Homo sapiens: one gene and its partners. The protein of the gene in region 1 purifies or fractionates together with the protein of each later gene. This does not show direct contact. Each region holds a gene or a part of one and is shown on either strand. Other genes may lie near its edges.

Evidence for each region.
Region 2: the proteins of ALDH3A2 (region 1) and PPP4R3B purify together in Homo sapiens (affinity purification with mass spectrometry; 3 studies listed by BioGRID and IntAct, with this or other methods). This does not show direct contact.
Region 3: the proteins of ALDH3A2 (region 1) and VPS8 purify together in Homo sapiens (affinity purification with mass spectrometry; 3 studies listed by BioGRID and IntAct, with this or other methods). This does not show direct contact.
Region 4: the proteins of ALDH3A2 (region 1) and XPO4 purify together in Homo sapiens (affinity purification with mass spectrometry; 3 studies listed by BioGRID and IntAct, with this or other methods). This does not show direct contact.
Region 5: the proteins of ALDH3A2 (region 1) and TBC1D15 purify together in Homo sapiens (affinity purification with mass spectrometry; 3 studies listed by BioGRID and IntAct, with this or other methods). This does not show direct contact.
Region 6: the proteins of ALDH3A2 (region 1) and CAND2 purify together in Homo sapiens (affinity purification with mass spectrometry; 3 studies listed by BioGRID and IntAct, with this or other methods). This does not show direct contact.
Region 7: the proteins of ALDH3A2 (region 1) and LTN1 purify together in Homo sapiens (affinity purification with mass spectrometry; 3 studies listed by BioGRID and IntAct, with this or other methods). This does not show direct contact.

The regions. Positions count from the first base shown.
Region 1 is NC_000017.11:19,658,674-19,662,674, reverse strand, and holds part of ALDH3A2 (aldehyde dehydrogenase family 3 member A2), read right to left. Parts: intron 1,549-4,001; coding exon 1,407-1,548; intron 676-1,406; exon of another isoform or gene 585-675; intron 1-584.
Region 2 is NC_000002.12:55,607,445-55,611,445, forward strand, and holds part of PPP4R3B (serine/threonine-protein phosphatase 4 regulatory subunit 3B), read right to left. Parts: intron 1-4,001. UniProt on the Homo sapiens protein: Regulatory subunit of serine/threonine-protein phosphatase 4 (PP4). May regulate the activity of PPP4C at centrosomal microtubule organizing centers.
Region 3 is NC_000003.12:184,814,729-184,818,729, reverse strand, and holds part of VPS8 (vacuolar protein sorting-associated protein 8 homolog), read right to left. Parts: intron 2,947-4,001; exon of another isoform or gene 1,849-2,946; intron 1,609-1,848; exon of another isoform or gene 1,286-1,608; intron 1-1,285. UniProt on the Homo sapiens protein: Plays a role in vesicle-mediated protein trafficking of the endocytic membrane transport pathway.
Region 4 is NC_000013.11:20,899,831-20,904,535, forward strand, and holds the start of XPO4 (exportin-4), read right to left. Parts: upstream 2,917-4,705; 5' UTR 2,909-2,916; coding exon 2,840-2,908; intron 1-2,839. UniProt on the Homo sapiens protein: Mediates the nuclear export of proteins (cargos), such as EIF5A, SMAD3 and isoform M2 of PKM (PKM2). In the nucleus binds cooperatively to its cargo and to the GTPase Ran in its active GTP-bound form.
Region 5 is NC_000012.12:71,845,838-71,849,838, reverse strand, and holds part of TBC1D15 (TBC1 domain family member 15), read right to left. Parts: intron 1,548-4,001; exon of another isoform or gene 1-1,547. UniProt on the Homo sapiens protein: Acts as a GTPase activating protein for RAB7A. Does not act on RAB4, RAB5 or RAB6.
Region 6 is NC_000003.12:12,803,125-12,807,125, reverse strand, and holds part of CAND2 (cullin-associated NEDD8-dissociated protein 2), read right to left. Parts: intron 3,639-4,001; coding exon 3,495-3,638; intron 1-3,494.
Region 7 is NC_000021.9:28,958,067-28,962,067, forward strand, and holds part of LTN1 (E3 ubiquitin-protein ligase listerin), read right to left. Parts: exon of another isoform or gene 3,012-4,001; intron 2,641-3,011; coding exon 2,451-2,640; intron 1,632-2,450; coding exon 1,392-1,631; intron 474-1,391; coding exon 320-473; intron 1-319.

The DNA of each region.
Region 1 (4,001 bases):
AAGAAAACAGACTTAAATGGTCAAAATTCCCTAAACCTTAGTCCACTGTTCCATCTACCATGGGGAAGAGGCACAAGAAAGGAGGGTGAAACAGATGCTGGGGAGGCTAGACAAAGTGTCCCAGCATCTGCTGCCAATGTAAGTCACCAACTAGCAGTACTCCAAAAGATGCTGTAAGTAAGAAACTGGCTCGTCAACCAAAAGAGAAGTCATCTGACAATAACAAGTTGGCACTTTTCCTTTACCCCCAGTTTCTAATAGGTTATCTTGGCAATGTGGCTGGGGACAGCTTCTTGCAGCACCACTTCCAGGGGGTATATAAACTGCCACTCCAAATCCATTGCCCACATCTTCCTCAGGTCAGAGAAACAATTTGGGCTGAGTGTCTACTTCCTCTGCATAGCCATGCTCAGGTAAGATGATCCCAGCTCGAAGTCAGGGGAAAGTCCTAATTAGTCTATAAGCTAATCAGGATAGCCCCTTCCTCTTACCATTCATTAGCCTAGAAATAGGCAATGTGGACATGCTGAGGATGGGAGAACAGAGAGGTGAAACAAGTAGAGTCTGTTTTCTCTTTTTTCTACAGATGTATTCCCCAATTCAATCTGGGCTGCCACCAAGAGAGATAGAAGGCACAAGGATTGTTTTCTTTTGCATCCTAGTACAAAGAATCAGGGTTTTTTGATGGTACCACGGGGCCACTGAATTATCTAGCTCAGGAGAACCTCGGGACTGCTAATTATAAGAGAATCAATTCTGCTTATTATTTCATTTTTAAGTTTTTTTTTTTAAAGTTGATTTTTTTTTTTTTGGTGACTTATAGCATCTTATCTGATAAAGGGGATAAGTAAAGCTAGGTGGTGCAGCTTCTTTGCCAGCAAAATGTGTCTAATTTTTCTGTCACCTTATATGTTACTGTAGAAAAATGTGCTTAACATTCAAAGTAATACATATTCAAGGCAAAGAAGAAAAAGCACAAAGAAGGTACACAAATAATAAGGTCAAGCATGATGGACCAAAACATTATTTCTGGAATGGTACCGTCACTGGTTAATTGTGGAATAGTGGCCAAGCTATTTCCTTCTTTGTGCTGTTTTCCCATCCACAAACTACAGATAATTACATCAAGTTCTATTCTGCTTCTCAGGATTGTTAGGAGGAAAAAAGGAGTTATGTGTAAATATGAACAACTGGAGCAACGCTGGTGGCATCATTCAATACACAGAAACACAGACATTTTAAATAGTTTATAACAAAAGCTACAGGTACAGTATACCAGAAAGCAGGATTTAGTACTTTAACAATTAAATGCTATATATTTAATAGTTTATCTAGTGTTAATAAGTAGTGTCAGCAAAAACTGCCAAATTGCCATCTTCCCATAGGAAAAGGAGAATTTCCATTACCTATGTAGCGTGTGGCCTCATCAGTCTCCCCACCAAAAGCTATCTTTTGTCCTTCAAGCAAACTTAGTATCCTCTTAAAATGACGAAGATTGATGATCCTTTCATAATCAGGAGACTCTTTTATATTTTCTCCATAAAATTCCTATTTAAAACAACAGGAGTATATAAATGTCACAAAGACCCACAATTCAATTTCAGTAAGTACAAAATCCAGCCATGCCCCAAAATCAATCTGGTTTTATATCCTCACAGAATCTAACACCCCACCCCTCAAGTAATTTAACAGTAGTATGATAGTAGCAAGTTTCAGCTTTTTGGCAGGTCGAGGACCAGAAAATAAAGCATGCACACACACAGAGATCTGTCATTGTCCATAGTTCCAAAGGTTCTTATGGATCTCTTAGAGTCCACCCACAGGCCTTCACCTCCTGGGGCTGACAGTGGGAGCAGGCTGGGGAAAGAAGTCTTGCTCTGCATCAGAGTTGCCTATTTGTTAGCACATTGGCTGTGCCTGCTTTCCCCCTACAGTAAGTTCGGTAGTTACAGCAGAGACCCTAACATCTGCAAAGCCTGAAATATTTACCATCTAGCCCTTTACAGAAACCATTTGCCAATCTTTGCTCCACTTTGTTGTTTTGGTCTTCTTTGAACTGGTATTTCCACCACTTACACATGATGGTGAAACCACCCGAAGGATCAAAATACAGCTTTGGTAAATTACCAAGGTAAAAGAACGTCAATAATCATACAATCAATATTTACTTAGTAAAACAAACAAAATTACTGAATTGCTGCATCACTTCAAAGCCTTGTGAGAGTTCCCAATTTCATCCCAAATCAAAATGAACATTGTTCATCCAACCTCTACCAAGAGCAATTCTCAAGTCTGGGTGGTCGGAATCACTGGTGCAGCTTGCTAAAATGCATGTGCCTGGGCTCTGACTCGAGAGTCACCAACAGTAGTTTTCAATGCTGAATGCATCATAGAATCACCTGGAGGCCTCAGACGAGCTGAATCTTTGGAGGGTAAGGCTTGCAAACTTGTTTTTAAATGGCTCACTAGGGTAACATGTAGCTTGAGAACCACTGTGTTAAGAGTATAAATGCCTCAAAGGGAGGCAGAGGCCCTTATTCCTTTGAAATTGAATTCATCACCACACTCAACTAAGCATTCTCCAATTCCCAAATATTTTCAATCTCACAAGTATCTTTAACCACTCTCTCTTCCCACATACCCTGAATCTGGGCAACTCTCCCTTCATGTGCTCATCTGGATCCATTTTTAGTCCTATGACTAAAAATGATAGTCCAATTTCCATGTCAAGACCCTAGCACCTCATCCCCCAAGTTACTCTGCCTGGAACACATAGTGAACTATTGTCCTGAACTTCCTGGTACATAATTTTCTCTTTTTTTTTTTTTTTTGAGACAGGGTCTCACTCTGTCACCCAGGCTGGAGTCCAGTGGCACATTCTTGGCTCACTGCAGCCTCCGCCTCCCAGGAGGATCAAGCGATCCTCCTACCTCAGCCTGCCAAGTAGCTGGGACCACACGTACACGCCGGTACACCTGAATTTTTGTATTTCTTGTAGCGACAAGATTTTGCTACGTTGCCCAGCTGGTCTTGAATTCCTGGCCTCAAGTGATCTGTCTGCCTTGGCCTTCCAAAGTGCTGGGATTACAGGAGTGAGCCACTGTGCCCAGCCAATTTTCTCTTTTTTTGTTTTTTTGAGACAGAGTCTTATGCTGTCACTCAGGCTGGAGCACAGTGATGCAATAATGGCTCATTGCAGCCTTGAACTCCTGGGCTCAAGTGATCCTTCTGGCTTCAGCCTCCTGAGTAGCTGGGACTACAGGCATGTGCCACCATACCCAGCTAACCTTTTTTTCTTTTGTAGACACAGGGTCTCATTATGTTGACCAGGCTGGTTTTGAACTCCTGGGCTCAAGCGATCTTCCCACCTTAGCCTCCCAAAGTGCTCGGATTACAGGAGTGAACCACCACAACGGCGACAATTTTCATATCTTTTTTTCTTTTGAGATAAAATCTCATTCCGTTACCCAGGCTGGAGTGCAGTAGCATGATCTTGGCTCACTGCAAGCTCCACCTCCCGGGTTCAAGCAATTCTTGTGCCTCAGCCTCCCAAGTAGCTAGAATTATAGGTGCGTGCCACCATGCCCGGCTAATTTTTGTAATTTTAGTAGAGATGGGTTTTGCCATGTTGGCCAAACTGGTCTCTAACTCCTCACCTCAAGTGATCAACCTGTCTTGGCCTCCCAAAGTGCTGGGATTACAGGCGTGAGCCACCATGTCTGGCCAACAATTTTCATTTTCAGATCACATGCATTACTCTTTGGTGTTTTTGATCCTTCCTTTTAGTGCTCAATTAACATCTGTCGAGTAAACAGTGACTGCTCCAATAATTTCTTTCATCTGAGGGGTTAATGATCCTCACCCACTGCTGAACTCAGTCACACTGGTCATTTGGTCATCCCATTCTTCTTTTTTTTTTTTTTTTTAAAGACAGAGTCTTGCTCTGTCGCCCAGGCTGGAGTGCAGTGGCGTGATCTTGGCTCACTGCAACCTTTGCCTCC
Region 2 (4,001 bases), on another chromosome or scaffold:
TAAAGTAGCTCACAAAATGCAGGGAAACAGTTATATCTACCAGTTTATTATAATATAAAGGATATTTTAAAGGATACAAATGAAGAGAGGTACAGAGCAAGGTATGGGGTAAGAGGCTCAAAGGTTGCATTACCTCCCTGGGCACATCATCCTCCAGGAACTTCCACTTAGTTATCTGGGAGCTCTCCAAACCCAGTCCTAATGGGCTTTTATGGAGGCTTCATTAAACAGGTATAATTAAGTAAATCACTGGCGACTGGTGATTAATAAACCCTCAGCCCCTCTCCCCTTCTGGAGGATGGCGGATGGGGTTCAAAGCCGCAATCTTCTAACCATGCCTTGGTCCTTCTGGTGACTAGATCTATAGATAGTACTATCTACAGTCAGGTCAATGGATATTACTAACAGAATGAAATCCAAAACCCTTTATCCAGCCATCCAATGCCTTTTCCATTTTGGCTACAATCAATGTTTGGTCCAGGTAAACATTGAAAGAGAAGGTCCAGGTAAACAACGAAATCTGAATTAAGGTAACTGAGCACCTTTTCATCATCACTTTCTTTTGCTCTTCTTTTTTTTGATACAGAGTCTCACTCTGTTGCCCAGGTTGGAATGCAGTGGTGCAATCTTGGCTCACTGCAACCTCCACCTCTGGGTTCAAGTGATTCTCCTGCCTCAGCCTCCTGAGTAGCTGGGATTACAGGCGTGTGCCACCACACCGGATTAATTTTTGTATTTTTAGTAGAGACAGGGTTTCACCATGTTGGCCAGGCTGGTCTTGAACCCCCGACCTCAGGTGATCTGCCAGCCTTGGGCTCCCAAAGTGCTGGGATTACAGGTGGGAGCCACTGCACCCAGCCCCTCATTCTTAACTTTAAATTCTTTTCTCTGATCTTGTCAAAATACCAGAAACTAAATGGGGTTTATATTTAGAGTTCTTTTCCAATGCTGAGGACTGACCCTGGGAAACAGTCAACGGTTACTGATCTTTCTTCTTCCTGATTACCAATAACTGATCCATCACATGCCCTGTCAATTCTACCTTCAATAAAGATCACAAAATCCATCCATCTCTGTCCATCTCTATCACCTCAATCCAATCCAACATTATCTTTTGCTTGGACTATGCAGCAATCTCCCAATGAGTTTCCCACTTATTGCTTCTCTTCAATTCCACAGATTGATACTATTAAGTATTTTGGATCATGTCATCACTTTGCATAAACTCTTCAAAAGCTTACTTTAAAAATCCCAACTTGGCTGGATATGGAGGCTCATGCCTGTAATCCCAGCACTTTTGGAGCCCAAAGAGGGAGAATTGTTAAGCGCAGGAGTTTGAAACCAGCCTGGGCATCATAGTGAGACCTCATCTCTACTAAACATTAAAAAAATTAGCCAGGTATGGTGGTATGCGCCTGCAGTCCCAGCTACTCAGAAGGCTGAGGTGGGAGGATCGCACCTAGGAGGTCAAGGCTGCGTGAGACTTAATCATGCCACCGTGCTTTTGGCTGGGAGACAGTCTCATCTCAAAACCACCGCCCTGCCTCCAAAAAAATTCCAAACGAAAAGATAGTGACCAGCCAGAAGCAGCACTCGATGAGGTATTTCTGGATGAATGAATATATGTGGTCAGATCAACAAGACTCAGTCTTGAGCTCTGTTCTTTTCTCAATTTATAGCTATTACCTCAAAGGAGGTTACCTTGTAGCTAAAAATTCATAATTCATCTGATTTTTTTTTTTAAAAGGCTGGAGTGCAGTTGGCTATTCACAGGTGTGATCATCACGAACTATAGCCTCAAACTCCTGGTCTCAAGTGATCCTCCTGCCTCAGCCCCGAAAAGCTGGGACTACTACTGGCATGCTAGGCCTTTTATGATTCTTAAATTAGAATCTCCTGCCGGAAAGTCTCACCCTATCTCTATTCCCAGATGTTCATTTTAAGACCTTTTCATGGGCTGGGTGTGACGACTCATGTCTGTATTCCCAGCACTTTGGAAGGCCAAGATAGGTGGGCTGCTTGAGCTCAGGAGTTCAAGACCAGCCTGAGCAACATGGCATAATCCCATATCTACAAAAAATTAGCCAGGCATGGTGTGCACACCTACAGTCCCAGCTACTCAGGAGGCTGAGGTGGGAGCCTGAGCGCAGGAAGTTAAAGCTGCAGTAAGCCATGATCACGCCACTGCACTCCAGCCTCGGCAACAAAGCAAGACTGTGTCTCAAAAAAAAAAAAAACAAAAAAAACAAAAAAACTCTTTCCATTTATTTTACTGTATGTAACTTCAAAGCCCGGATGGAAAAGAAAAAAAAAGCAAAGCACAAAACAGTATACAGTATGCTACCAGTTATACCAATAAAAGGGAAAAAATACATACAATTGTATGCATATTTGCTTACATATGCATACCTCCAGCAAGATATATAAGAAACTGGTGATGTCAGTGGCCTCTAGCAAGGGAAACTGTACGGACAGAATCTGGCGTGGGAAAGAGACTTCAATAAATACCTTTTGAATTTTTAACTGGGCTAATATATTACACACTAAAAAAAATTTTTTTTAATAAGCCTCAAACCAAAAGATTAATGTAAACCTGCTTAACTTCCCACTTTCTGGAAAGAACCATCACCTTCCTGGCCAGACTCAAAAACACTATCAGTGACCTTTGATTCCTTCTCTTTAATATTTAATCATTTACTAAATTTTCCAGCACTTTCTGGAAAATATACTGGAGCTCTGTTCCTTCAAGTCCATTTACCGTGGTGGAATAGACTTTCATTTTTTGTATCTGAATTATTGCAAAAGGTCTTGCTACTCAAAGATCTTCTGCTCCACCCTATCCCTCCTCCCCAATTTATTATTCATGACATTGCCACACTCATTTCTTTAAACACAGTATCACTTTAGGCCCCTACTCAAGAACCTGTAATGTCCCCTTCTGAACCTGTGTATTATCATATTTGGGATTGGTGGTAGGAGGGGGAGAAACCACTGCTACAAATAGGCTTAATACCTTTTGTAGCAAGTGTATTTCCTTTCCTATCACAGTTCCTTCCACTACCACCACCAAGAATGAAGTTTTTCTTAATGATTCCAGCTTATATTAACCTCTTCCTTAATTTTCTACTGCTCTAAGTCTGTGGAAAATGCAAGTTTACTTTTTATATTTTGTGTTGGCACATACCTGCTGTATAATCTCAGTCAAGAATCTTACCCTTTCTGTACCTTTGTTGCCTCATGTGTGAAATGCTTTCACGGGCTTTCAGTGAAGACTGTGGTAAAACACTGTTATAAGCTATCTTATTATCATTCTTTATCTGTTTCATCTGTTACATCCTGCCTCCAAATAAAACTGCAATGAGGATTTTCTTAAACCCAATTAACACACAATTGTGTTAAATAGGTACACATTCTTATGACTCTGGTTTTTTTTTTTTTTTTGAGAGAGTCTTCCTCTATCGCCCAGGCTGGAGTGCGGTAGCACAGTAACAGCTCACTGAAGCACTGACCTCCTGGGCTCAAGCAATTCTCCCACCTCAGATTCCCAAGCAGCTGGGACTACAGGTGTGTGTCACCATGCCCAGCTAATTTATATTTTTTGCAGTGAGAGTCTCAGTATGTTGCCCAGGCTGGTCTTGAACTCCTGGACTAAAGTGATCCTCCTGCCTCAGCCTCCCAAAGTGTTGAGATTACAAGTGTGAGCCACTGTGCCTAGTATGACTCTTGTTTTTTATTAAGATATGTTGCCCAGGCTGGGGTGCAATGGCTACGCACAGGCACAATCATAGCACCCTACAGCCTCAAACTCCTGGCCTTAAGTGATCCTCCAGCCTCAGCCTCCCAAGGAGCTGGGACCACAAGCACACGCCACCACACCTGGCTTTGACTCTGCTTTTGATTTAGTCAGTATCAGTGGGACTGATTTGAAGTAACTTAAAATTTCTGTCACACCTATCAGGTATGTTATTTCATGTTGTATCATATAATGATTCTCTTCTCTT
Region 3 (4,001 bases), on another chromosome or scaffold:
ATGCTAGAAAACAATCACAAAATCATGATATAGTACAACATTACATGCAAATTTTATTTTTGGCCTTCCCAATCCAAGCATTTCTCTTCATTCCTTTGTTTTGTTTTGTGGTTTGCTTTGTAAAGGGAAAAATAAAATGCAATGGTGGGTTAACTTCTATTAGTTTTCTATTACCTTCTGGCAAATGGACTTTTTTTTTTTTTTTTTTGAGACAGGTTCCCCCTCTGTCACCCAGGCTGGAGTGCAGTGGCATAAGCTCGGCTCATTACAACCTCTGCCTCCCAGGTCAAGCAATCCTCCCACTTCAGCCTCCCAAGTAGCTGGGTCTACAGGCGCACACCACCATGCCCAGCTAATTTTTTGAATTTTTCATAGAGATGATGTTGGCCAGGCTGGTCTCAAACTCCTGGGCTCAAGCCATCTGACCGCCTCAGCCTCCCAAAGTGCTGGGATTACAGGTGTAAGCCACCACGCCCAGCACAAGTGGACTTATTTTTAACAGATTCCCAATGCCTCCAGGATAAAATCCCAAATTCTAAGCCTGTGACTCCAGATATCACACGAGCTGATCCTTCTGCCTCCTTCCCTTACAATTGAATTTATTATTTTTGCACTAAGAGTCCTTCATGAATAGCTTCCACTTTCCCTTCATGTCTGCTCAAGCTGATTCACCTTCCCTTTCCTTTCCTTTTTCTCTACATTTATCTAACTTCCTTTCTTCCTTCTGGGCACCGTTCAAACTGGATCTGCCTATGACCTCTTCCTTCCCTAACCATCCTCTGAATTCAGAAAACATGTCTTCTTTTAAAACAGTGGCTTGGCTCTTTCCTCATGCTGATTCATTAGTTAATTTACCATGTGACTCTTTTCTCCCCAGCTATATAATAAAAATGGGGCCATGCTCCTTTGAATATTCCACATCACTGGGCTTACTGGCTTGCACAGCTAGGTAGACATTCGAAAAATGTTTGATTAACATAGGAACTAAGAGACAGGAATAACATCTGTGTTGCAAATTAAATCTATCAGTGTTATTACTTGTAATTGTTAAGCTCCAGAGGATATTATTTGACTCACAGCATATAGGAATCTATACCATAAGAAGCCAAGTTATAATTGAATACTACTTATATGTAGTCAAGCTTGTCAACCACTGCAGGTCATATTTATCAACTATCGGCTAAAACTTTGCTTCCTTAGGAAGGCCTTTTTTTGCCCTGCTCAACTAGGCTGTTTCCTGTTAGTATGCACCCATAACATCGTTCTCCTCTTTTACTACACTTACCACATTGTAATGATTTCCTCATTGTCTAAACCACCATTCCTTGCCCCCAGTTGGAATGCAGGTTCCATGAGAGAGCAAAGACCAGATCTGCCTTGTTCACCATTCTATTCCCCGTGCCGATATGACACAGCAGCTGATCAACCCACCCATCTACCCATCCACCCATTCCTCCCTCCCTCCCTCCCTCCCTAGGTAAATACCCAAGCAAGACTGCATCACTGGCTTCCAGAATCTCAAATAGCAGTTCTGGTCACGTAATACAAAGTATGGTTAGTTACACTACTCCAAAACGCCTCCATCTGTGCAAGTTCCATTCTTTGCATCTAGGAGAGATATTTTTAAATCACTTAGCTCATTTATAACATGATGCAAATCCCACAATCTCAGATGTTTTATGTTCTTTTACGTTAATTCAGCTTAGAGGCCAAGATGAATACAGTGGAAATGTACCATACTTCCATTCAATTTGCAGGATTTCATCTATTATCTTCAGCAACGGGAAGGAGAGAAAGAAATGATTCATATAGATGATTCTATGAATCATGATTCATGATTCTGCATACCTCCACTCAATAACTTCTTGCTTCACAGTGGGCACAGAATAGGAGATGGTCAGCTGCTGTTCTATGTCTCAGTTCTCACATGCCTCACACCCAAGCAGTTCACGTCACCTGTGCTCAAAATAACAAACGCCATGCAGTTCCAACATGGAAAAACAAGATCTGGCCGTATGGGGCTTCCTGAGAGACCCACCGCTTGTCAGTCTCTGATATGACTCCCTCTTGGGGTACTTTGAGGGTACTCAATTTTCACCTTATTCATTTAGATACAGACCCTATTTAGAGAAACATTACTATATACTGGGATGGGCTGCTTTACTTGACCCTGGAATTTCTTTCCAAGAAGGCACATTTAGGTAATTGTAGCTCACAGTGCCAGAACTGCCACGACGAAAAAGCCCAACCCTCTGTTTCTCTTTCTGTTGTTGGTGAATGTCTAAATGAGGAGAGTGATCATAAGTACATACAGATTAAAAAATGTTAAAAAGAAAAGTAAGGGGAAGGAACAGTGCCTAAGACCTTCCTGTATACAGTGAGTGCTAAGTTACTGCTATGAATTGTCAGACAATCAGCTCCAGCCTAGAAAAGAAAAATCTAATCCCCTATCACAATATACAAAACAATAATATGAACGAAGTCTACAAATATCTAGATAATGTAGAAATTCTAACTTTATTGATCAGTTTTATATCAATATGTGTGTGAGGTAATAAGTGAAATAAATAACAGAGAAAAATGATCACTTCCAGCTTCTATAATACTGTCTCCACTATCATGAGAATGTCTCTTCTCAGACCCACTTCAGCTCCAAAGAACTCCTCCTAAAAAGCACAAGGGCCTTGTGTACGCTGAAATATATTCCCTTTTCTTCTTCACATAACTGACTGATGCAGGTAAATTCTTGTAAGTTAAATGCGCAAAAGACAGGATTCCACTTAGGTAAAGGCTGAGTAGATGATGGCCTTCTTTATTAATTTGCAATTAACTGTCATCTCAATTTCTCTTGGTTAGGTGTCAAGAAGGATATAGAGTCATGAGAGATTTATTCTTTTTTTTTTTTTTTTTTTAAGAGCAGGAAGTAACTGGAAGCGTCTTGCTGAACTGCAACGGAAAAAACAAAGGTTAAAACACCCCAGCACCACTGCCACCTTTCCTGGAGGGCAACTGCTTCTCCTCCATTCCAACCATGTGATTTTGGTGGTGCTGCCAATCAAGTACCCTATCTGCCTAGCTAGCGGAGCAGAAGAGTAGGCACATCACATTCTTGGGTCCTATGTGGCCAATCAAGGTACTTCTGGAATTTCTCTTTATTCTAGGGTGCTTAATCTTGGATGGCATAACACAGGAGTCATCTGCAGTCACATCTTTTATGCATTTATATACAGTCATGTGCCCCAAAAAGACGTTTTGGGTCAACGACAGACCACATATACAACCATGGTCCCCTAACATTACACATAATGGAGCAGAAAAATGCCTGTAGCCCAGTGATGTCACAGCTGTTGTAATGAATGCATTACTCATCTGTCTGTGGTGATGCTGATGTAAACAGACCTACCGCACTGCCAGTAGTATAAAAGCTAAGCACATACAATTATGTGCAGTACATAATACTTGATAATAAACTATGTGCCAGTTTATGTATTTGCTATCCTATACTTTTTATCTTTAGAGTGTACTCATCCACTTATTTAAAAATTTAAAAATTAGCTGTAAAACAGTTTCAGGCAGGTCCTTCAGGAGGTATTCCAGAAGGCACTGTTATCATAAGAGATGACAGTTCCCTATGTGTTACTGCCTCTAAAGACATTCCACCGGGACCTTCCTGACTCTGTGTAGGCCTAGAGTAATGTGTGTGTTTGCGTCTTCGTTTTTAAAGATTAAAATTTTTTGAAATAGAAAAAAGCTAACAGAATAAGGATATAAAGAAAATATTTTTGTACAGCTAATTGTACAATGTGTTTGTATTTTAAGCTAAGTTTTATCACAAAGAAGTTAAAAACTTTTTTAAATTAAAAAGTTTATAACATAAAAGTTACATTACAGTAAGCTAAGGTTAATTTATTATTGGAGAAAGAAAAAATTTTTAATAAATTCAGTGTAGCCTAAGTGTACAGTGTTCAAAAAGTCTACAGTAGTGTACAATAATGTCCTAG
Region 4 (4,705 bases), on another chromosome or scaffold:
TCAGACCCACAGATGGATAAATGCTAAGATCACTCTGTTTAAAATATGTAGCTTAATGCTTAATAATTGACGGAGCATTAACAACCTTAATTAGCCAAAGATGAATTAATTTACCTCCTTTCTGGTCCCAGTATCCTACAGCTTAAGAACCACAGACTGGTAACAGACAAACCAGAGTTTGAGTCTCTACCCCTTGCTATGTAAATTTGTGTAGATTACTTAGCATCTACATGTTGGAGTTTCCTTAGCCTGTAAAATGAAAACGAAAGTAACACGCCAGGTGCAGTGGCTCACGCCTGTAATCCAAGCACTTTGGGAGGCCGAGGCAGGTGGATCACGAGGTCAGGAGTTCGAGACCAGCCTGGCCAACATGGTGAAACCCTGTCTCTATTAAAAATACAAAATTAGCTGGGTGTGGTGGTACATACCTGTAGTCCCAGCTACTCGGGAGGCTGAGGCAGGAGAATCGCTTGAACCCGGGAGGCGGAGGTGGCAGTGAGCCAAGATCGTGCCACTGCACTCCAGCCTGGGCAACAGAGTGAGACTTGGTCAAAAAAAAAAGAAGATGAAAGTAATAATACCTACCTCACAGAGTTACTGGAGATAAAAAGTAATATATGTAAAGGGCTTGGCACAGCGCCTCCAACATAGTATGTACTCAATAAATGGTAGCTATTAATAATTTGGAATATAGCTTTCATATTAAGAAATAATACAATAACTACTCTACACATCTTTGGTACAAATTTCTGAATACTTAAGTGGAAATTTCCAAAAAGTCATTTCCTTTTTTTTTTTTTGAGATGAAGTCTCACTCTGTCGCCCAGACTGGAGTGCAGCAGCACGATCTCGGCTCACTCCAACCTCTGCCTCCTGGTTCAAGCGATTCTCCTGTCTTCGCCTCCAGAGTAGCTGAGATTAAAGGTGCCAGCCATCACGCCCGGCTAATTTTTATATTTTTAGTAGAGATGGGGCTTCACCGTGTTGGCCAGCCTGGTCTTGGGCTCCTAATCTTTAGTGATCCGCCCACCTCGGCCTCCCAAAGTGCTGGGATTACAGGAATGAGCCACCGCACCCGGCTGTAATTTCCTGTTTTTAATAACATGACACTTTTTTCAATACTACTCTCCTCTGAAAAGATAAAAAGCATTTAGACAAATTATTTATACAACATATGACAGATGGGGTAGAGTGGAAAGACACACAGCTTTAGAGCCAGACAGAACTGAGTTCAAGACCTAATTCAGCCATTTAGTAATCGTGTAACCCGGGCCACTTACAGTTTCTCAACCTTGTAAAGCAAAGCTGTTGCAAGAATTAATAAAATATGTAAAGTATGTAAAGCATCAAGCCCAATATCTAGCACTCAATAAACGGTACTTACTACTATTCTTCTCACCTACTCCTTATAGGGGATAAAAGCAGCTTTGCCAGGGAAGAGGGAAGATATTGGAAAACACAAATACTAGTTTATATTAAGCCAGTGACGAAGGACACTGATTTTACCTGATCAGTGTAAGAACTACAGCCGTGTTTTGGGTGGCATACTCCTTCCAGAATCCAATGAAAACGGAGCCCCTAGCTCCTAGGAAAATTTCAGGAATTTTACAAAACGCTCTATGTCAGGGATTTTTAAGAATCTTTTATTAAGGGGAATACTAGCTAGTTACTTCTGCTTAATTTGCAAAAGTGTGAAAACCTTCACTAGTCTGTTTTGTGACAAAACGTACATTAAGTTAATATTCATAATGAAGCAAGTAAATCCTGCTTTTATTAGACTTCTCGATTTCTAAAGAAACAAAAATATCTGGTGTAAAATATTAGAACTACAAACTACGCTAGAATTAGTTCGAATATTCTCAAATGTGATGCTCAAACACCCTAACACCAAACCAAAAGGAAAAAAGTCCAAAAAGGTAACAAAGCTGGCTGTATCCAATTCTTAGAAAGTCTGAATCAATCCAGGTATCAAATGAACCTCTAACTTCCCAAAACATCTACAAACACCGAAGTCATAATTTGCAAAAACAAAGCTGAGCCAGCAAATAGAAACACTGTTTACTAACTGAACGTAGTTTATCCTTACTTCTCCTCCTTGCATGTAATACTTTTATCCTTTGACTCGGCCTTCTCAAATTCCCTTAGTAAACAATCTCATCAAACTGCTTATTGTAGTGTAAGCATGAAGTCAAAGAGTAGCATAGACTCAGTTCTCCAAATCGCGGGAGCTTTAAGGAGCTTAGCACTAGACCAAGTTTTGCCCCAATGACCTTGGTCTCAACGATTCCCCTCCCTCCCTCCAGCCGGCCCGGCCCTTCCACGTGCTGCCGGCTGCAATTACTCCAGAGGTGGCTGCATGTCAGGGAAGCGCTAGAGGATGCGAATGCACAGGAAACAAGGGTTGCTAACAGCACCCAGGCTGTGCCATCCAATCCCTCCCGACACCAACTCCCCAAGAGCGCTCACACAGCCCTACAAATTTCCCCTACCGAAGCCCTGCGGGGATAACCCCAACTCCTTCCCGGCGCCTTGCTCTGCGACCCAGTCTGTGGGGCAGGGTGTAAGGTGAAGAAATTCTCTTTGCTACACCACTATATTCCCACGCCCGACTGGGGTGCTGGGCAGCCAGGGGAAGGGGACAGCTCCTGGAAGGAGGGGACGACGGCAGGAGGAAAGTAGGCTGAAGAATCCTGCGCCACGCCACCGCCACCTCCTCCTCCACTTCCAGGCTCCCTGCAGGCCCTTGCCAGTCGCCAGCCCAGCGAGCAGCAAGGCCTGGAGTGGCAGGGCCGACCGGGGGCCCGCGAATCCCGGGGTCTGAGGGGCGCGGCGTCCTCACCATCAGAACTTTAGCCGCGTTCTCCAGCTGAGCGATCACTTCTGGGGGCCCCAGCGCCGCCGCCATCATGGTCTCTCTTCAATGACGCGCCATGCGCTGCATTCTGGGAGCGGGCGCCGCGGCCGGCCAATCGCCGCCGCGACCCCGGAGCCTCACGCGCTCCCAGGGCCGTCGCAGCCGCTGTCGACACCGGCGTCGCGGCCTCGGCGGGTCTGGCCGGGCTGCCGGGTTCCGGGTGGCTGGGAGGGGACTAGTGTGAGCCCGGCCGCCGCGCTGGGGCGGGGGCGGCCGCAGCCGGCACCGGGCGAGGCCGAGGCGGTCTGCCCAGACTGCTGCAGCCGCGCGCCCCGCTAAGCTCCCAGCCCCGCGCATGCGTGGTGTCCGGCGCCCCGGCCTCGCGGTGCCCCCGGCCCTCTCCCCACTACCCTAGTACAGCCCGCCCGGGGACCCGCAGATCCACGACGCCAGTTCGCTCCCTCCGTTCTCAGCCCTGCACACCGCCTCCCCTGGCTCCTCCTTGCCCTTCCACGCTCCAGCGCCGTGCAGGATTTCCTAAACTTGGAATCGCTCTTCCCGCTTTCCCCTCCTCAGAGCGCACCTCCTTTCAAAGTATCTCTGTCTCCTGCTTCTCTGTTCCTTCTTGCCATGGGAGAACATTCCAGGATAGAACGCTTCGTTTTCTTTCTTTCTTTTTTTTTTTTTTTGGAGACAGGGTCTCACTCTATCGCCCAGGATGGAGTGCAATGGCCCTATTTCGGCTCACTGCAACCTCCGTCTCCCGGGTTCAAGCGATTCCCCTGCCTCAGCCTCCTGAGTATCTGGGATTACAGGCGCCCGCCACCACGCCCGGCTAATTTTTGTACTTTTAGTAGAGACGAAGTTTCACCATGTTGGCCAGGCTGGTCTCGAACTCCTGACCTCAGGTGATCCGCCCGCCTCGGTCTCCCAAAGTTCTGGGATTACAGGCGTGAGCCACCGCCCCCGGCCGAACGCTTCGTTTTCATAATGGAGGGCTTTGGCCTTCTGCAGGACAATCATCCAAATGTATCTGGGCAGCGGGTCGCTAGGAGACCCTAGGAGGAAAACCCGTCTTTGGCTCTTGCCGTTTTCACTCTTTAAGGGCTGGCTCACATAGGAGAGGGAGAAAGCAGGGACAGGAAAGCCTGACCTTGACTACCTGGCTTCTCAAATGCAGTAAGATGAGCTTTGTCGGCCAGGCGCTGTGGCTCATGCCTGTAATCCCAGCACTTTGGGAGGCCAAGGCAGGCCTCATTTTAGCTCAGGAGTTCGAGACCAGCCTGGGCAACATCGTGAGACCCTGTCTCTACCAAAAAAAAAAAAAAAAAAAGCCCGGTGTGGTGTCTTGCGCCTGTGGTCCGAGCTTCTCGGGAGGCTGAAGCGGAAGGATTGCCCAGGAGGTCGAGAGTGCAGTGGGGCGAGATCACACCACGGCACTCCAGCCTGGGTGAGAGGCTGATCCTGTCTCAGGAAAAAAAAAAAAAAGGACAAAAATCAGCATTGTCGTGTTTGTGGAATCCGTGTTGAAAGGCATATTAGAGTATCAAGTAATTAACCTTCCCTCCGGTGCTCCAGTTGCCTCTAGGACATTCCACGCAAGTGGTCCTGACAGCTGTTTCAGTATTCAAACCAGTGCTGTTAGGTTGTTCGGATCAGGGGTTTGTTTCGTTTTGAGCTGACATCTACGGTCTACATTCCTATAACTTCTTTTTGGTGCTTATTCAGCCTTCTGAAACAACACAGACAGTCAAATTCGTTTCAGTATTTTTAAGTTTATTTTTTGTTGAAATCTTCCTGTTTCTTATTCCTAGTTATAAGAAAGCCATACTGTTGAGGTTTTATGTCACT
Region 5 (4,001 bases), on another chromosome or scaffold:
CAGAATGGCAAAAGTCTATTAGAGTTAGAAACAGATATTAAAATTTTCAGAGTCAATTTTGGAGATCCTGGATGAGAAAGAGTTGCTAGAAGAGCTCTATCAAAATGGAGTGACCCCCGAGTCTTTGAAAAGAGCAGTACTGGGACTGACCATGCAGAGGAGATAGAGTTGCTGATGGAAAACTACTACCGACTAGCTGACGATGTCTCCAATGCAGCTTAGGAGCTTACGGTACTGACTGATGATTCACAAAGTATTATTTTCATCAATCTGGACAGCCACTGTAACGTGATAATGAAGTTGAATCTACAGCTGACCATAAGAACCTTCTCTCTTTCGCTCTTTGGAGTAATGGAAGTTGCTTTTGGAATGAGTTTGGAATCTTCCCTTGAAGAGGCCCATGGAGTGTTTTGACTGATTACAGGAATTATGTTCATGGGAAGTGGCTCAGCTGGAGGCGCCTGCTTTCATTCCTTGGACAACAGCTAGAAGCTCCATTGCCTCCTATGATAGCCTCCTTACCTAAAAAGATTCTTCTGGCAGATAGAAGCGTGGAACAAAGAACAGTCTCAGACCTGATGCACTTGGATCAGGCAGGAGTATCCTAACAAACCATGAGGAACAACCCTATGGACACTGAAGTTTTTTGTTTTTTTTTTGTTTTTTTTTTTTTTTATAATCACAGTTAACTTCTGATACTTTTATTATTTTCTTGTATGGAGTCAGACACTTGAAAAAAATTAATATCTGATGACAAAATATTTTGGCAGTCACAATACTAGAACTTGATTGCATTTCCAGAATTCTGAGTTAAAGAAACAAAGTGTTTGCTTTGTAACAGGCCAAAATTCTATTTCCTGCAAACTTTAAATGCTGTTTTTATAGACATGATGTGAGGCAACAGAAGAACAGACAGTTGTATAGATTTTATTTAATTTATACATAACAAGAAAAGTATAATTTCAGGCTGAATGAAGCCTAGGAGCTTGACAAACCCATAGGAAGCCATAGTTCTTTGTTACCACAGGGAATTACGTCCAAGTGAATTTCCTGATTCTCAGGTGACTAAAAAGCTAGCACTCTATGTATTAACCTTAAAACAAACTCTGAAAGTTTATGCTTTAAAAAACAAACTTTGACATAACATTATTTTCTTAGATTTGGCCCCCCTTTTATATAAGATGAATAAAAATAAATAATTTTTTTAAAAAGACCCAAATGAACTTGTATTAAAAGGATTTGTATCCAGAATATAAAATCCAGGACATAAAAAGAACACTAAAAACTCAGTGACAAAAAAACACAGTTTGAAAAAAAATAAGCAGAAGATTTAAACAGACACTTCATCAAAGAAGATACAAGGACAGCAAATAAGCACATGGAAAAATACTCAACACCATTAGTCATTACAGAAATGTAAACTGAAACCATAATGAAACACTATTACACACCTATTAGAATGGCTAAAATTAAAATGACTGACATTAAATATGGGCAAAAATATGAAGCAACTGGAACTTTCATACACTGCCAGTGGAAATATAAAACACTACACCTACTTTGGAAAACAATTTGGCAGTGTGTTAAAATGCTACACACACAACTAATATATATGATCCAGCCACCCCATTCCCAGGTATCCAATCAAGAAAAATGAAAGCATATTTTCATAAAACACATATACCAATGCTCAGAGCAGCTTTAATTTATTTTATTTATTTGTTTGTTTTATTATTTTTTCGAGACAGAGTTTCGCTCTTGTTGCCCAGGCTGGCGTGCAGTGGCAAGATCTTGGCTCACCGCAACCTCTGCCTCCTGAATTCAAGCGATTCTCCTGTCTCAGCCTCCCGAGTAGCTGGGATTACAGGCATGCACCACCATGCCCAGCTAGTTTTGTATTTTTAGTAGAGACAGGGTTTCTCCATGTTGGTCAGGCTGGTCTTGAACTCCTGGCCTCAGGTGATCCACCCACCTCGGCCTCCCAAAGTGCTGGGATTACAGGTGTGAGCCACGGCACCTGGCCTAAGAGCAGCTTTATTTGTAACAGTCAAAGTGGAAATAACCCAAATGTCTATCAAACACATGACTAGATAAACAAAATGTGGTATACCCATACAATGAATATTATTTGTGGGGTTTTTTTTTCGAGACAGTCTCGCTCTGTCACCCAGGCTGGAGAGCAGTGGCACAATCTCGGCTCACTGCAACCTCTGCCTCCCATGTTCAAGCAATTCTCCTGCCTCAGCCTCCCGAGTAGCTGGAATTACAGGCACATACCACCACACCCAGCTAATTTTTGTATTTTTAGTAGAGACAAGGTTTCACTATGTTGGTCAGGCTGGTCTCGAACTCCTTACCTCGTGATCCACCCGCCTCAGCCTCTCAAAGTGCTGGGATTACAGGCGTGAGCCACCGTGCCTGGCCCAATGGATATTATTTGGAAATAAAAAAAAAACTAATGATACATACAACACCATGAATTTCAAAATAATTATCCTGAATAAAGAAAGCCATACAAAAACAGAGTATATACTATATAATTCCATTTATATAAAGTTCTAGAAAATTAAAACTAATTTATAGTGACCAAAAAATGCTCAGTGGTTGCCTGAGGACACATGGAGTGATGGTACAGTGAGTCACGAGAAAACTAACAGAGGTGGTGAAAACATCATTATCTTAATTGTGTTCATGGGTTCATGGTGTACACAAATGTCAAAGTTGTATACTCTAAATACATGTGGTCTATCATATCAATTGTATCTCAAAAATAGCTGTATAGGCCAGGTACAGTGCCTCACCTGTAATCCCAGAACTTTAGGAGGCCAAGGTGAGCGGATCACTTGAGGCCAAGAGTTCTAAGCAGACGGAGCAACACGGCAACACTCCATCTCTACAAAAAATACAAAAACTAGCTGGGTGTGATGGTGCATGCCTTTAGTCCCAGCTACTCAGGAGGCTGAAGTGGGAGGATCACTAGAGCCCAGGAGGCGGAGGCTGCAGTAAGCCGAGATCACACACTACACTCTAGCCTGGGCCACGGACCAAGGCCATGTCTCAGGGCAAAAAAAAAAAAAAAAAAAGCTGTATAAAAAATAATTTACATAGAAAGTCCATTGTTGTAAACAGTAAAAACCTAATTAAAAATAAATACATACATACATGAGGACATTCTCACTAAAAAGAAAGAAATTAGTCCTGCCTCAAAAAAAAATTAACAATCATACCCTCACTTAGCTGGGAATCAGGTGTTCATAGGAAGCAAAATATATCAAGAGCATTCAAAGACTTGCCACTTGGTGGTGCTAAACTGACTGTATAAAATTCAATTCAACAAACTTTTATGAAGCAATTATGTGCCAGACATCATAAAGAACAGAGAAATTAAAAGGTATTAGAGTTCCTTGCTTGTCTGTACCTGGCAAAATTATTGAAAAGGTAAAGAAGGAATATTCTAAGTGTAAAAATACTACAAAAAAAAGGAGGAAAGTTTTCCTTTTGGGATAAAAATGTCTCATGCCCTCCAGGCTCTTATTTATTCTTAAATATTTGCTAAGATGCCCAAGCAGATAAGTACATTTATAAAACTTCCAATGATGGCCTGCTGAAAGCAACAGAAACTGTATTTTGTTTTTCTCCTCTAGCAAAGGAGCTATGTCAGATATACCTTATTAAAAGAGTTCTGGTGACCACAGCAAACATTTTAGAATAAATTTTCTCACCTCTAATTTAGCAAAAGTTTTAATTAAAAAGCAAAAATGAGGCAGAAAAACAGATAAATTCAACTTTTAGACAGAATGAACTTTTGCACAATCCAACTCAAGAACATCCTTCCTGACACAAAGAGCTGGAAAAAATAAGGAAGTTTCACAATACAGTAGTAATTTTTTATACTGTCCCTACACTTAATACTGAATTTTTACTTATATTATGATTATTATAATTTTTATTTATTTCCAAAAATGGAAGATAAAGGAAAAATTCAACCCAAATATTTTAAA
Region 6 (4,001 bases), on another chromosome or scaffold:
GACCTCCCAAACCTACATTTCTTCTTGTGTTTTACGTCTCAGGAAATGGCCAAATAGTGCTCCAGAACAAGGGTTCTCAAACTTGAGGGTGCATCTGAATCCCCTGGCGGGCTTGTTTAAACAGATGGCTGGGCCCCACCTCCAGAGTTTCAGAGTCAGGAGGGCTATATCTAGGTGTGGCCTGATAGTGTGCATTTCTAGCAAGCTCCCAGTTGAGGCTGATACTGTAGGTGGTCCAGGGAGCACACTTGGAGAACCTCTGCCTTAGAGGCTTGCTTCTCAAAGTTTGGTGGTGAGTTAGCATTGGCAATGCCACTCGGGAGCTTGTTCAGGATGTGGAATCTCAGGCCTTACCCTACCCTAGATCTACTGAGCCAGGATCTGTAGCGCCACAAGGTCCCCAGGTGATTCCAATGCACAGGAAAGTGTAAAAACAGCGGCACTAGACGCCCTCGTTCTTGGCCTTAGTTGCCATCACCTGGGCCTCTAAAAAATGCCTACCTGGGCACTGCCCTCAGAGAGTCTCAGTTAATTGGTTTCAGATGTGGCCTGGAGGGGGTTGGGGGAGGGCTTTTAAAATTCCCCAGGTGATTCTAACATGCAGTCGAGGCTGACAACCTCTGCCCTACCTGAGTGGTTCTCAGACATTGGTGTGCATCAGAATGCAGATTCCAGGGTGCTATAGTCTCATCCTCTGCCCCAGCTCCCTTCCTGCTCCATCCCCTGAATCTGAATCCCTGGGCAGGGAATACAGGGTTTCAACAAGAGCTTCAGGTGACTGCAATGCACAATGGTTTTCTTTTTTCTTGATTTTTATTGAGATGAGGTCTCGCTCTGTTGCCCAGGCTGGAATACAGTGGCGTGATCATAGCCCACTGCAGCCTCAAACTCCTGGGCTCAAGCGATCCTCCTACACAGATGAGATTACATATTCAAGCCACCATGCTTGGCTAATTTCTTTTTTCAGTGTCTCGCTATGTTGCCCAGGCTGGTCTTGAACTGCTGGCCTCAAGTGATCCTCTTGCCTCAGCCTCCAGAATAGCTAGGACTACAGGCATGTGCACCATGGTTTTCAAACCTTGGTTCTCTCAACTTCCTTCTCCACAGCTCCTCTATCTACGTAATCATGGAGTCCTCCATCCTACCTCCTATAGCACTGGTTCCCACTAGGAGTAATACCACCTTGGCAATTTATGGGGGTCCTTGGTCATCAAAACTATTGAGTTAGTACTTCTGGCCTTTAAGGGGTTGAGAAGCAGGAACGGCAGAAAGACAATAATGTAAAACAAAGCACTGTCCATGCCCCGCAAGAGGTTCTAACATCCCAATGGGCATTTGTATAGGCAAAAGGCCTTTCTATAATTATCTGAGTCTAAAATTTCATTTTATACATAGACACAAAATACTTTTTTACATTGTTTTAATATACCACATTTTAGATTTTCTAAGAATGCAATTTTCAGGTAAATTGAAGGAAAATTCTACTTTGTTTTCTGGGAAACTTTATTGGGAGATGGTCACTCACTTTAGAAAATCCTGGCTGGGTGTGGTGGCTCATGCCTGTAATCCCAGCACTTTGGGAGGCCTAGGCAGGCAGATCACTTGAGGTCAGGAGTTCAAGACCAGCCTGGCCAACATGGTAAAACCCCGACTCTACTAAAAATACAAAAATTAGCCGGGTGTGGTGGTGCATGCCTGTAATGTCAGCTACTGAGGAGGCTGAGACATGGGAATCGCTTGAACCTGGGAGGGGGAGGTCACAGTGAGCTGAGATTGCACCACTGTACTCCAGCCTGAGTGACAAAGTGAGACTCTGTTTCAAAAAAAAAAAAAAGAAGAAAAAAAAAAGAAAATCTTGCCACTAAGAGCAATGGCCTCCAATTCTGAAACCTGAGTCCCCAACACCCCCTGTCTGTATCTGTACTCATGATGAGTTCACGTGTAGATGCAGGCTTCTCGTGACTTCATCACTTCTACCATCACAGTGCCCAAGCACGCATACATGGAAACACACATTACTATAAACTACATTCCTTCTAGTTTGCCTTTATGGTTATGGTTAGGGCATTATGTGTAGAGGTAGGTTTTATAATGTATGAATTTCATTTCCTAATAGGAAACGGTATTACAAACTATTTGTTATAAAAAGGTATTGGTTCTGCTGGTGTGAAACCCATCCTAAGTCTACTCCATGACCAGAAAGACATTCCCAGCTCATAAACTTGTCCATGTCACCTTCCTACATAAAACCCTTTACTGAATTCTCTCTGCTCTTGGGATCACATTGCAAATTCATTAACATGCCCCAGAAGAATGCCTGGACCCAGCTCACAGACAGTGGTTTGAGAGACAGTGCCCAATTCTCTCACCCTGTTGTCCCTTGATCCCTGGCATTCTATTTAAAATTACCCAGGTGATGCTAACCTGCAGTCAAGCTTGACAACCTCTGCCCTACACTAGTGGTTCTCAGGTGTGGGTGTGAGAATGACCCTACCACACAAGCATCCCCACGTGCTCTGCACATACCCTTGTCTTGTCTTTTTCTACTCGAGATAACTGGCCAACGTCTCAGGATCACAGCCTCACAGTGATCTAAGGCTGGGGCTTTTAGGACCTCTCCCAGTCCCATGTGCCCTAAGCCTTTTTTGTTTGTTTGTTTTTGAGATGGAATTTTTGCTCTTGTTGCCCAGGCTGGAGTGCAATGGCGCAATCTTGGCTCACTGCAATCTCTGCCTCCTGGGTTCAAGCGATTCTCCTGCCTCAGCCTCCCAAGTAGCTGTGATTACAGGCACGCACCACCATGCCCGGCAACTTTTTTTTTTTAATTATTATTTAGTAGAGACAGGGTTTCACCATGTTGGTCAGGCTGGTCTCAAACTCCTGACCTCAGGTGATCCACCTGCCTTGGCCTCTCAAAGTGCTGGGATTACAGGCATGAGCCACCGCACCCAGCCTTTAAGCCTTTACCACCTTGATGTGTGTCAGCTTGACCTTCCCAGCATTTACATCTGTCTGAGGGCTTTCTCTGGCTGGAGGTGGCAGGCAGTGGACAACCCTCCATCCTACCCCAGAAGCAGCCCTTAACCAATGACTACCAGGGAGCTGGTGGATTAATACCCCAGCTCCCTTACCCTTTGAGTGGGAAAAGTCCAAGGGACATGTCCTATACTGTGTCCCAGAGGTCCCCATGGGGTTAAGCTCATCAGGCCCACTGTGGTCACTTGCTTCGTACCATACCCTTGATTGGTCCTCTTCCCTTTCCTGCCTCACTTCCCTACTCCTCTACCATGTTTCCTGGGAGCGCCTCCCAAATAAACTTAGATTTGAATCCTTGTCTCAGCATCTTCTGGGAAAACTCAGACTAAGGTACCATTCAACGAGAGCTGCTCAGCAGGTCTCCTCTGCGAGGCTGTACCCCAAAGGGACAGCGGTCCCCAGGATGCTCCCACACAAGGTAGGGCCCCCTCTCCTGCTCCACCGAGGCTGACACTCACCACTTGACAGCCAGGTTCTGCACCTCACCGTTCTTGTCCTCCAGGAGCCGGAGCAGCATCTTCACCACCTTGCGCTCGCTGTCCTCGTCCAGCTGGATGGAGTCCTTCTGCAACTCCGACATCAGGTCGCTGGTGGCCATGAACCTGCACAGGGAGGGTGGAGGAGATTGCTGAGCAGCTCCTGGGCCCTGGTGGATTTGGGCAGTACCTCAGGGTTCCCCTAGAAGTAGACCTTAATACAAAGATTCGAGGTCAAATGCAGTCCTGTGTCACATAATGATGTTTTGGTAAGTGACAGGCAACATATACAATGGTTGTCCCATAAGATTATAATGGAGCTGGCCGGGCGCAATGGCTCACGCCTGTAATCCCAGCACTTTGGGAGGCCGAGGTGGGCAGATCACGAGGTCAGGAGATCAAGACCATCCTGGCTAACATGGTGAAACCCAGTCTCTACTAAACAAAATACAAAAAATTAGCCAGGTGTGGTGGCGGGCGCCTGTAGTC
Region 7 (4,001 bases), on another chromosome or scaffold:
GGATGGTCATTGAAACAAAATGGTTTTGGAAAAATTCGTTTGGGTCTTTTCATAAGAGTCCTGTAGATTTGTTACCTAACAAGTCACTTTTCATTTCTCTTTTTTTTAAGAGATGGCATCTCACTATGTTGCTCAGGCTGGTCTCAAACTCCTGGAGGTCTCAACTGATCCTCCCACCTCAGCCTACTGAGTAGCTGGGATTATAGGGACGAGCCCTACAAGTCATTTTTCATAGGCACTCACACTGATCATGGAATCTAATTTAAGGACACTGTTCAAGTATAAAAGAGACACTGAAACCAAGCTCAAAAAAGGTTACCTGTTGATATCCAAAGATGAAGCCTGAACTTGGTTCTTCAGCCACAGAGCAGACAAATGTAGGAAGGTACTCTCTTTATATGAACTGTCAGTTTGATGAACCAATAAATTTACACCAGAGAGCCAAGTATTTTTCAGTTTACAGATAAGAAAATCTAAAATCAAGATGTCAACAGGAATTTGTAATCTCACTGAATTAACTCTCATCAGCACAAAATGTTTGAAACAACTCTACAGATCTGAGATTTTTTTAAATACCATTTAAAAAAGAAAAATTTTAAATTGCCATTCAAAATTCAATTGCCAAACAAAGCAACTGTGTCATAAACATGCAATCATACAAGCTAGCACGTATCATATAAATGTAAAATGGTAAGATTTTTAAAGTTACATTTTTTATGCTTGAACTTATTTACAAGAGTTGTCCTTTTGGAGACATTTTTAAAAAAATTATTACACCATTTCCAAATACAGAAGTTAGTATTTAAGAAAGGGTTGGTAGCCAATGATGGGCAGAAAAAAAAGAGAGAGAGAAAGAGGAAGGAAGAAGGAAAGAAAAAAAGAAAGGAAAGAATGAAGGGTGGGAGGAGGAGAGCTCTCTATAGATAGTATTTTTTTATGTTCCTTTCACAAATAAGTCTGAATTAGCATATAAGGCAAGAATATAGTCCTTAAAAAGATAATTTCAATTCTATTTTGATATACACCAAAGATTGAATGTTTTTACTATAATAAAGGGATATTATTATCCCCCTTTTACAAATGAGGAAACTAAGACATCAAGAAATTAAGGAACATGCCAGAACTACTGAATGGACTAAGATTCCACCTAATCAATTATGGCTCATTCCAAATTTCTTTGAATATCAAGTGAGATCTTTAGAAATAACATCTACGTACATCTTTAACTTGCTTTCTAGAGCTGAAAGTGTTTAAGACTGTAGCCCTTTACTCAAAATGCTTTAAACTTTCAAACACATTATAATTCAATTAATAAAGCCTGGGCACTTACACTCACTATGAAGGTCAGAGCCGGAGATTCCCAACAAAACATTTGAGCAGTAGGCTATTACCTGGCAAATGTGTTTTTTCTTTGCTCTGAGCACATAACTGAAAGAGAGTTAATAATAAATCTTCAGATGATGGCATTAGCAAGCATCCTTTCGCTGAGCTGAAATAGTTATAGGCCACATCACAGATAAAAGACACTGATGAGTCACTGCTTTCAGCTTCTGATAATTTCTTTGTTTTGAATAAAGTTTCATGAAGTCTAACAATGATTCTTTCAACATATACGTCTCCAATCAAGTAATCTGGAGAAAAAAAGGTTCAAACAGACAAAAAATAAAAATATTAACGTGTATTTTTAAATATCTTACTTTGGATTAATAATTCTATGGGTCTTTCCTGGATTTTAAAATGTATTAGACAAAATTTTATCAACAAATCAACACATTCTCTCACACATAAAGGCCCTCAAGTAAAAAAGGCAGTTTTAAATTAAGTAGAAAACAGAAATGGTCTACAGTTAGGGTGAGCAAGTTTGTACACTGAAAACCCTTTAAGTCATGAGTCAACTTTATGAGCTAAAAAAAAAAAACCCTTTAGGATATAGAACTAAAAATATTAAATATCTTCTAAGTCATGGTATGAAGATTAATAAACAATTAGGGTGCTTACAATATTACGATATGTAAATGAGCTGGGCGCAGCGGCTCACGCCTGTAATCCCAGCACTTTGGGAGGCTGAGGCAGACAGATCACCTGAGGTGAGGAGTTCGAGACCAGCCTGGCCAACACAGCGAAACCCCGTCTCTACTAAAAATATAAAATTTAGCCAGGCATGGTGGCATGCACCTGTAGTCCCAACTACTTGGGAAGCTGAGGCACAAGAATCACTTGAACTCAGATGTTGTAAGCCAAGATCACACCACTGCACTCCAGCCTAGACGACAGAGGGAGACTCAGTCTCAAAAAAAAAAAGAAAAAAGAAAAGAAAAGAAAAAAAAAAATTTGAATGAGTAAGTCCTGTTATTTTTAACCAATAACACATAAGCTGAGCCCCATGCAATCCCCCACAAAGGAGAAATGGACTATTCCCCATTAGAAAACAAAAGCCATATTTGTCCTACCATTTTTAACATGTTGGGATAATACCAAGCTTAGAAGAGTCCATCTTTCTGAGAAGTGAGATTCTGAAGATACCCTGGATTCCAAGTCCTCATTACAAAGACAATCTGCCAAGTTGACCAATTTCTCACCAAGGATATCGCCTTTGAGCCAAGGAGTTACTAAAGCATGTTTATCTGAACTAGGACATGCCTAAAACCATAAAATTAAAGCAAAGATTAACAGCAAGATCAAATACTCTCTCTGTCCAAAATATTACTTGTACCATATTACTATCCCTTCGTTATCATGGCTCCAATTCTATCCCCCCTCCTCCTCCTCCTGAAGTTCTAGGAAGACTGGTATCCTCCCTGTTCCCCATTAAGCCTGTATGATGTTCACTTCCACGCTTTGCTGTTACCTTCCCAGCCATAAATATTCCCCCACCCCCCCCTTTTTTTTTTAACTTAAAATCCCATCCATTCTTTGAAAATCAGTACAAATCCCACCTACTTTATGGAGTCTCCCCATCCACTCCAGCCCACAATGATCACTGCTTTTCTCTGAATTTCTAAAGCACTTACTGGATTGTATAATTATTTAAATGTTTCATCTGTGTATATCTTGTCTTTCCAATGAGATTGTAAGTTCCTTGAGAGTAGAGACTGTCTTAAACTTCTTTGATACCTGCTATCAACACTGTAGATATGTTCAATGAATAATGAATAAACTTTGAAGATAGATTTATAAATGCTCTATAAATTTTTGTTCATTAATTTTGCTAAAATTAAAGAACAATTAGTGTATAATAATGGTAAATTACTTCAATATGAACAATGGGATTTATTTCCCCAAATTCTCTGATATAGAGTTACTAGGGCCAGATATCTGACAGCAACTTATTTTCATGAGGTGGGGAAGCAAGAAAAAAAAAAGCTGTAAATCCACCCCTAAAGCATGCTGATCCATGTTCCCAGAGCTTCTTTTGCTTTAAGGGCTGAGAAGTAAGGAATTTGCAACTTGGTTCATTTCAAAGCAATCTGGAAGAAAAAAAAAAATCCAAGTGCAGATTGGGTAGTGCTTGGAAAACTTTATCCTTTTATTTAAAAATTGTAGGTAACCAGAGCTTATATTTTAGTCCAAGCTTTATCACTAACTAGCCTATGACCTTGGACAAATCTTTTAATCAGCGTGGGCCTATCTCCTAATTTGAAAGTTGGAAAGATTAACTTAGAAAATCTCTAAGGTCCTTTTCTGGTTCCAAAACTCAAATCTGTTTTTTAATTGATGGTTTTTTTAAAAGATGACTTTAAGACCAGCCTGACCAACCAACACGGTGAAACCTTGTCTCTACTAAAAATTCAAATATTAGCTGGGCATAGTGGCAGGTGCCTATAATCCCAGCTACTCGGGAGGCTGAGGCAGGAGAATCACTTGAACCCGGGAGGCAGAAGTTGCAGTGAGACGAGATGTTGCAACTGCACTCCAGCCTGCTGGGCAACACAGTGAGCCTCTGTCTCAAAAAAAAAAGATGATTTTAAGACTCTGCTCATAAAGTATTAAGGTTCCATAAA